Homo sapiens: one gene and its partner. The protein of the gene in region 2 purifies or fractionates together with the protein of the main gene of each other region. This does not show direct contact. Each region holds a gene or a part of one and is shown on either strand. Other genes may lie near its edges. The genes, in order: BDH2 and PFKFB4.

Region 1 (3,810 bases), on a different chromosome or scaffold from region 2:
AGTTTACATTTCAGCTCCACTGTACTCCACACCTACTTCCTTTACTAAAATTTGTAAAGCATTTTAGAGCCTGGTTTTGCAAATGAGTCTCATGCATGTGCAACAGTCTTACCCACGATGACCTAAGCTTTCCTCCTATACCACAGTCTCTGCTCTACCCCTGTAACCTATGCAAAGGATCTGTCTTCAAAAATACATTCGTGTTCCAAATACTATAGTTTCTCATAAACTCCAAATAGGCTAAAAAATCAACTTACATTAAAAAAAACAATTTGTTATAAAAATTTGCTAGTTCAACATTCTGTGGACCCACCCAAAAATCCCTTCTAAGCACTAAACAAGTAGATTTTTCAAAGTCCCTTCATTACTAAGTCAGTTTCTCTAATTTTCCTGTTAATGTTCATCTGGAACCTTCTTAACATTAGGTTGAATATTCAGAGTAGAATATCAGCCCTGCTGTGCCATTAACAAAGCTCTTCTCCTGCCCAGACATGGACAGGACATCAAATCCAGCTGGGATGGAAGGGAAAAGTTGTTCTTCTGCATTTCACTAGGTTCAATTTACAACCTTGAGTTGAGCTGGCTCTGTACCCAGTCAACCCCTTTCATTGTCTCAGCCTGCACTGTCTGCTACTACTGGTTTATAAGCTCATTTGAAATCAGGGATGTACGCTGCTCATGTTTATACTCCCCTAGAACACTTTATATAGTGATTTATACCAAGAGGTACTTAATGCTAGTTTATAAAATAAAATTTTAAACATTGATGCGTTGTGTGAAGGCTTGAGAATTCAAGGAGGAATGCTGTCTTGAGCACACACTGTCTCTCACCTGCCCAGTACCACTGTGGTTCAGATCAAAACAAGAGCGAAGGGAGAAGCTTCAGGGCAGAGAAAAGCAATGGGGTACATCCCTCTTGAGAGTGTGAGCCTAGACTGAAATTCACGAAGGGGCTCAACGTCCAGGCTTCAAATCTTGGTTCTAACCATGTGCTAGTTGGGTGACCTTGAGCAAGTTGTCTGAACTCTCAGTTTCATCTTCTGAACAATGGATGAGATAATAGTATCTACCTCATACGATCATTCCAGTCTCGTGTGCCTCCCTGCTGTTACCTCTGCCTGGAATCATCTCCCAAGGTACCTGAATGATCAGCTGTCTCACTTCTTGGACTGCTATGCCAGTTTCACCTTTGCGGTGGAGTCCAGAGGGGCCGCATTGATATCCTAGCTTCTTTCTCTTCATTATATTTAAAACCACGCCACATATTCTATGTCTATTTGATTACTAATTGTCCCATCTCACCCCCAATAATGGAACCTGCCTTATAGAAGGCACTTTGTTTAGTTCACTTATGTGTCTTCTGTGCCTAGAATGGAGCCTGGCATGTGGAAAGTGCTTAATAAATATTCCTTGAGTGGATGAGCTGGAAGGTTAAATAGATTAATTTATGTGAAATGCCTTGATATAAATGTTCAATGCAAGTTAATCATTGTGTTAGTTATTATCACTCTTCAGCACATGTGGGAATCCCTTCTGTGTGCCCAGTACAGAGACCTAATGTGGTGCTTATCCTGGTGGTGGTGGTGGTGGTCTTACTTTAGGAAGGAATGCCTTGATCATCAGGTACATGCTGCGCACATTGAGATTCATCGAGAAGTCCCAGTCTTTCTCCTCACAATCCAGGACAGTTCCATGATGGACAAAACTAGAAGAGTGATTAAACAATGGAAGAATAACTGCCATTAAAATTTTTCTATTCCATCTGCTGATTATTTTTATTGTCACTTAGTGACTTAGACCACTGTCTCTTTCCCTTATCAAGACTTTAAACAATTCATAGTATCACTTAGTATATTATATTAGTAAGAATCCCAACAACTTAAGCTAGAAATGTCATCTGAAAACAAGATCCTTGTTTTCCAAACAAAAGTATGGTCACCGAACATAAGAAGCTTTATATTAATTGTGCTGGAAACATCAATGCCATTAAAAACAAACAACAAATAAAGGCGAACAGGGCTAGGCATGGTAGCACACACCTGCAGCCTCAGCTACTTTGAAGGCTGAGGCAAGAGGACCACTTGAGCCCAGGAGTTTTAGGATGCAGTGAGCTATGATCATTCCACTGCCCTCTAGCCTGGGGAACCAAGACAAACCCTGTTTCAGAAAAAAAAAAGAGAGAGAGAAAAAACATCTGCCCTATTTGCCTATGTGATTCCTATTTCAAGAGCAACAGTGCCCTCAGGTGGCACAGATTTAGAATTCTCAAGGGAAATCAAAATTGCAAGGAAAACAAGTGTCTGAACATCTCAGAGCAGCAAAGTGATACTGCTAGTGTTCTAACATACTGAGAGATGTTAGTTTGTTGTAAGAGAGACGTTAAGGCAGAACAAAACAAACCCGTAAAGTAGCTTTCACTATTTTTCAAGTTACGTTTTCTGAGGGAAGCTTCCAAAACACTGGAACCCTTACTGATTTGGTCCTCTGGACCCAAATTATGTAATTCATTATAAAATATTGTTGGCTGTGACTTCCATGTACCAAAGCTCTGCTATTTCAGTCAGAATGTCAGTTTCATGACAGCAGGAACCACATGATTATTTCTACATCCCCTACATGGCTGAAAATTTAATAGATGCTCAGAAACTAACTTTGCTAACTATTTGTTTCATGTTTCTGGGTGTATTCTTACATGAGGATGGAAGACTATTTATAAAATAGATGATCAGAAATTATTGCTTTAATTTAACTTCCATACATTGTAACACATAATACAGCTTTGTATCAGTACCATCTGTCTTGAGTAGACCTCATTTGCCCCAGATCATGTCAAACTCTAAGGCTGTCTTACCTGCTGAATTTTATGTGTAATGAAAATGCTGTGTAAAATCTAGCCATATTTCCCAAGGAATATGTCATGGTTCACAATGAATGATTTTGCCACATTATGAAAATTCTTTGAATGAAAGTCATAGAAAACTTTCTGTAAGGAAAGTGAAACTAAAAAGTTATGAATTACCCAGCAACATTAAAGAGAACATCAAGTCTCTCAACTTCATTGGCAAACTGATCAATTTGTTTCTTCTTTGTGACATCAAGGACACGAGTTTGAATACCTGAAAAATAAAACAAGAGGCACTATTCCTAAAAATGTTTAGCCTTGAAGGTTTAGCTGTTTTGAAGTGTGAAGTGTGAAGATTGCAACATCTATCCAGCTAGGCTTCATAGATTGCTGACCTTCTTACTAGGGTCTTAAGAATCTTCAGAGTCTCATTAGTAAACTTAAAGTCCATCTTGACTCCTCCAATAACCCATCCGTCCCTCTTCCTTCCTCTCTGTCCATTTTCCAAGTTGAATAATAAGGGTCCTTTCTGAGCAATGGCTTTATAGTAAAGAATGACTGGTGTACATTAGATGTTTCTCAGTAAGCCAGCAGTAATAACTGAAAATGGGCTCATTTGAAGTTCTTACAAACTTCAAACATTAATTTTCTCCTCTTTGCAGCTTTTCTCTTAATTTTCTCTTCTTTGAGGTATAATTGAGAAATAAAAATTGCATATATTCAAGATGTCCTTCCCCTATCCTTCCCCTGCCAGAGACTGGGTTGCTGGTACCTATACAGTAATCAGAATTTTGTCTGAGTGAGGGGTGGAGAAGAGCAAGTGTTCTGGAATAAGAGACTGTTTCTATTTGTGAGCTTCCCCTTTATGTCATTTCCATTATTTATTAGAAATGACTCTGTTAGTCAAGGGTATCCAGTCAAATACATGTATTTCTGGACTAAACTGCAAGGAGAAGAAATGAGAGGGT
Region 2 (4,603 bases):
GCTCAGGTTGAAGCCGTGTTGGTGGGGGCTGGGGCAGAGAGTGTACAAAGCTTGGAGAGGCGGGGCTGGGGATCCCGAGGAGGCGGGAAACTGCAGGAGTCCGGTGGGGGCCAAACAAGAAAGTGAGCCAGGGGTTTAGGAACTTCTGGATCTCTCCCTTGTTCCTTGTCCCCAGTGCATTTTCAAAGACAAGAGGGAGATACAAATATAGTAAAAGGCAACCATAACGTATTTTAAAATGAATTTCTTAGAGATTGACATACTTAATTTATACTGTAATACTGTAAGATAGACAATGTGCACATCCCATTTTCCTGAAGAGAAAATGTTATTAACATATTATTTTCAAAAAATATGTAAAACTTTAGTTAAAAAAACCAAAATACTAAAAATCAAAAAAAAATTGTAAAAAATGAAATTCTGGAAAGACGATTAAGATACTCCCAGGGCTTAGTGAGTACCCAAAGTACTTGGTTACTAAGTGCCACGCACGGCCGGGCGCGGTGGCTCACGCCTGTAATCCCAGCACTTTGGAAGGCTGAGGAGGGCGTATCACCTGAGGTCAGGAGTTCGAGACCAGCCCGGCCAACGTGGTGAAATCCCGCCTCTACTAAAAATACAAAAATTAGCAGGGCGTGGTGGTGGGCGCCTGTAATCCCAGCTACTTGGGAACCCGAGGCAGGAGCATCCCTTGAACCCGGGAGGCGGAGGTTGCAGTGAGCCAAGATAGCGCCATTGCACTCCAGCCTGGGCAACAGGAGCGAAACTCCGTCTCAAAAAAAAAAAGTCCCACGCATTTGCTCCCAGCAGCCAAAGCAAAGAAAGAGGAACAATATTGAAATGTGTTTTGAGTCTCTATCCATGAGGTAAAAGAGCTTTTCCAGCGTGGTTGAGCATGCTCCTATGGACGGCGGAAGAGTCCCGGGGCTCGGAGCAGTCAAGGGGGACCCCGAGGAGGGGCAGGAGGGCGCAGCGGAGTTGACGGCTGGGACTGCAGGCCTACTGGCCCCTGTCGGCTCTGACCAACCTGGCCGTGCGGGTCACGTAGGCCTCGTCCCACTGCATGAAAACCCCTCCCTCCTGGGGGCCCTGGGCTCCCTAGCAAGGAGGTAGCAGAATTCACGCGTGCCGCTGCTCAGGGATGCAGCGCCAGGGCGGAGCCCGTAGGTGGGGCCTATGCAAATCAGCGCGGGCAGGTTGGGAGAGCTGAGTTTGCGCATCCGGGGCGGGCCTGCACAATCCGGGCCTTGAACTGGGGCGGGACCAGTACAATCCGGAGTTGAGCATGCGCATTCTCGATCCTGGCCTGAAGAACTGGGCCCACTTGTTCCAAAACGGGCGGGTAGGTGAGTTGGGCATGCGTGGTCGGAGGCCGGGCCCCTTTCAGCTGGGGCGGAGCCTACTCACTCTGGGGCGGGACCTGCGGGAAGATAGACATGGGCTGTCGCGGCTTGAGGAGGGGCGGGGCCCAAGGGGCGGGACCTCGGGTGGCCCGAGGTGGCCCGGCTGCTGGGTTGGAAGCGGCGCAGTCCGACTCATCCCGGCCCCGGGATGGCGTCCCCACGGGAATTGACACAGAACCCCCTGAAGAAGATCTGGATGCCATACAGCAATGGGCGGCCCGCTCTGCACGCTTGCCAGCGCGGTGGTGAGGCGGGGTCCTCTGGGAGGAGGTGGGAGGTGCACCGGGATGGGTGGGTAGGGCGGCCTGGGCGGGGGTCTCGCATGGAGAAGGGGCGGGAGACAGATGGGGAACCGGGGACAGGTGAGGTTGCCGTGACTGGGGAGGCTGCTGGGGACAGGTGAGGCGGTCGTGACAGTGGTGGGCCAGAGACAGGTGTGGCAGAGCAGGGGGCGGGGACAGGTGTGTGGGGGCATATCGGCTTGGCGGTGGCTAGGTCTGGCCACCATCACCTCGGGGAGGGCTCTGGCCCCCTCGCTTCCCTCTCCAATCCCCATCGCCCCCAGTCTGGGGAGGACCCTGTGGGCACCCCAGGCCCTTCCCTCTCTCCTGGCCAAGGAGTGTGGGCCGGGTTGTTGGACTGGAACTGAGCTGTGTGGCCCTAGGTGAATTACTTGGCCTCTCTGAGCCCAGAACTTTCAAAGGTGGGCTAGTTTTCCAACAGGAGGAAGGGTGCCTCTTGGCCTTAAAGCTGAGCTTGGGCAGGAACTTCAGCAGAGATGTGCTCAGGATAGAGACAGAAAAGTATGCCGTGTGGGCCTGTGTCTGTGTCCCGGGACATGTAAGTATCCACCTGGGGTCATGGGTGTACAGTAAAACTGGAGAGTGAAACAGCTAGGAGAATGCTGAAATTCATGGAATTGTTAAGGGGCTCACCTCTCCTAGGGTCCCAGGTGTTTAAACCGCTTCCTTGAGTTTCTGCCTGTCCTTAAATGAGCTGGCAGTTTTTTTTTTTTTTAAGAGATGAGTCTCGCTCAGTGGCCCAAGCTGGAGCAAGTGCAGTGGCGCGATCATAGTTCACTGCAGCCACGACCTTCTGGGCTCAAGCAATCCTCCCACCTCAACCTCCCGATTAGCTGGGATTATAGGTGCGCCACCACACCCAGCTTTTTTTTTTCTTTTTTCTTTTTTTTTGTAGAGACAGGGTCTTGCTATGTTGTCTGGGCTGGTCTCCAACTCATGGCTTCAAGTGGATCCTCTGGCCTCGGCCTTCCGAAGTGTTGAGATTACAGGCGTGGGTCCTGGCCTGCAACTTTTTTATTACCAGGAAAAGAAAGATTTGTTTTAGGAGTAACTGAAACATTGTAATGAATTTGCAGCTTGTCCAGCACCTCAGAGAACATCTAGTTTAACAGACAGTGAAATGGAGATCAGGAGATTGAGTGACATGCCTGGGTCTCCCTGTGATCCTGCCTCTGCTTATGTATGATAAGCAAGGGGAGAGTTCTTTGTGCTCATCCTGCTGCAGCAGCCTGGAGCCATGGCTTTGATCATGATATGAGTCCTGGGGGAAGGGTGTGTGTATTTCTGGCCACACTGTGAGTCCTGGCAGGGGAAGGCCATGTTTCTGACCAGACCAAGTCGTGGTAACTCATGGCTTTGATTGTGATGTAGGTCCTGGTGGGGCTGTGCTGTCTATAATGCACACTCAGTCCTGAGGGCTATGGCCACCCCTCCTTTGAGACTCTTCTGGAGGCGGGGAGGCTGAGCCAGTCTGTGTTATTAGGGCTGTGTGGTCCTGACTTAGGGGGGTGGCTGCTATTACTACATAGGGGAAAGGAGTGAGGACCTGGACTTTTTTTTTTTTTTTTTTTTTGAGACGGAGTTTCACTCTTGTTGCCCAGGTTGTAGTGCAGTGGTCCTATCTCAGCTCACTGCAACCTCTACCTCCTGGGTTCAAGCAATTCTCCTGCCTCAGCCTTCCAAGTTGCTGGGATTACAGGTATGCGCCACCATGGCCGGCTAATTTTGTATTTTTAGTAGGATGGAGTTTCACCATGTTGGCCAGGCTCGTCTTGAATTCGTTATCTCTAATGATCTGCCCCCCTTGGCCTCCCAAAGTGTTGGGATTACAGGCATGAGCTGCCATGCCTAGCCAAGTCTGTGAGCCTTTAAGGAGTAGGTCCTCAATAAGCGGAGGCAGGGTATTCTGTCATCACTACCATTCTTTCTTTGCTTCTCACTACGTCTGAGTCAGGGATTGATGCATCAGCTCCAAGCCAACCCCCGTTACAGGTGAGAGGAAGCTGAGGCCCAATGGGAAGGTCTCATAGCTCCTGAGGCAGGGCTTGTGTTTCTCCAGGCTCTAAGTGTGGAACTGAAATGTGGCTCTGGCCTGAGCTGAGGGGCTCGTGCCATCACGGTGTCTCAGGGTGTTGGGGTAGGCTGGGTTCTAGGTCCGCACTTTTTCCTGGAGGAGGAGGTAGCACCTGAGAGGCCAAAGATGAGACCTGCAGGTTGTTTGGGGATTTGGGCCTCAGGGTTCACAGCAGGGAGTGGGTAAGCAGTGAATGAACATGGAACCCGCCCATGCAGCACCTCCAGCTCCCAGTGCCTGCATTTGGGCAACACTTTACCCTTTGCATAGTAGACTTGTAGGTTGAGTGACTGCAAGGACAGTCTGGACCCGGAGGGTGTGGGTGGGGATGGAAGCGGATTTGGTCCCAGGGCTTTGTGGGGAGGAAGAAGCAGGACCCACTGCTGGTCTGTGCTTTGTACTGGGTTTTCTCTGGAGTCTAGTCCCCAGCTCCTCAGGGCACTAGGGGCTGGTGGACTGAGGGATGTACTGCACCTCCTCCACTCCCACAGGCACGCCCCCGCTTGATAAAATTTAAAGCCACACCTGAGGGCTTGGGAGGCTTTTACCTTTCCCATCATTGGCCTCCGAGCTCAGACCTGGAGGAACTCTGAGGGCAGGTGGGGCAAGAGCTGACTCAAGAAGGACTGCAGAAAGGACGGTGTTTGATGGCTTTTCTCAGCTGAAAGGTGGCAAGACTCTTCCTGGGTAAGGACATGACTGGTGTGTGCACAGGGCAACAGGAGAGATGACTTTCAGTCCCCTCTGAAAAGGGCCTCCATGGCACGTTACTTTATTTTAAAGAGCTCTTCCTTCCCTAGCCTGGCCTAAGGAGGTGAGAGCAG

The links.
Region 1: the proteins of PFKFB4 (region 2) and BDH2 purify together in Homo sapiens (affinity purification with mass spectrometry, with the first as the bait; one large-scale study listed by BioGRID). This does not show direct contact.

What each region holds. Positions count from the first base shown.
Region 1 is NC_000004.12:103,089,581-103,093,390, forward strand, and holds part of BDH2 (dehydrogenase/reductase SDR family member 6), read right to left. Parts: intron 3,117-3,810; coding exon 3,020-3,116; intron 1,706-3,019; coding exon 1,597-1,705; intron 1-1,596. UniProt on the Homo sapiens protein: NAD(H)-dependent dehydrogenase/reductase with a preference for cyclic substrates. Catalyzes stereoselective conversion of 4-oxo-L-proline to cis-4-hydroxy-L-proline, likely a detoxification mechanism for ketoprolines.
Region 2 is NC_000003.12:48,553,726-48,558,328, reverse strand, and holds the start of PFKFB4 (6-phosphofructo-2-kinase/fructose-2,6-bisphosphatase 4), read left to right. Parts: upstream 1-1,525; 5' UTR 1,526-1,551; coding exon 1,552-1,648; intron 1,649-2,095; coding exon of another isoform or gene 2,096-2,243; intron 2,244-3,385; exon of another isoform or gene 3,386-3,404; intron 3,405-4,319; exon of another isoform or gene 4,320-4,466; intron 4,467-4,603. UniProt on the Homo sapiens protein: Synthesis and degradation of fructose 2,6-bisphosphate.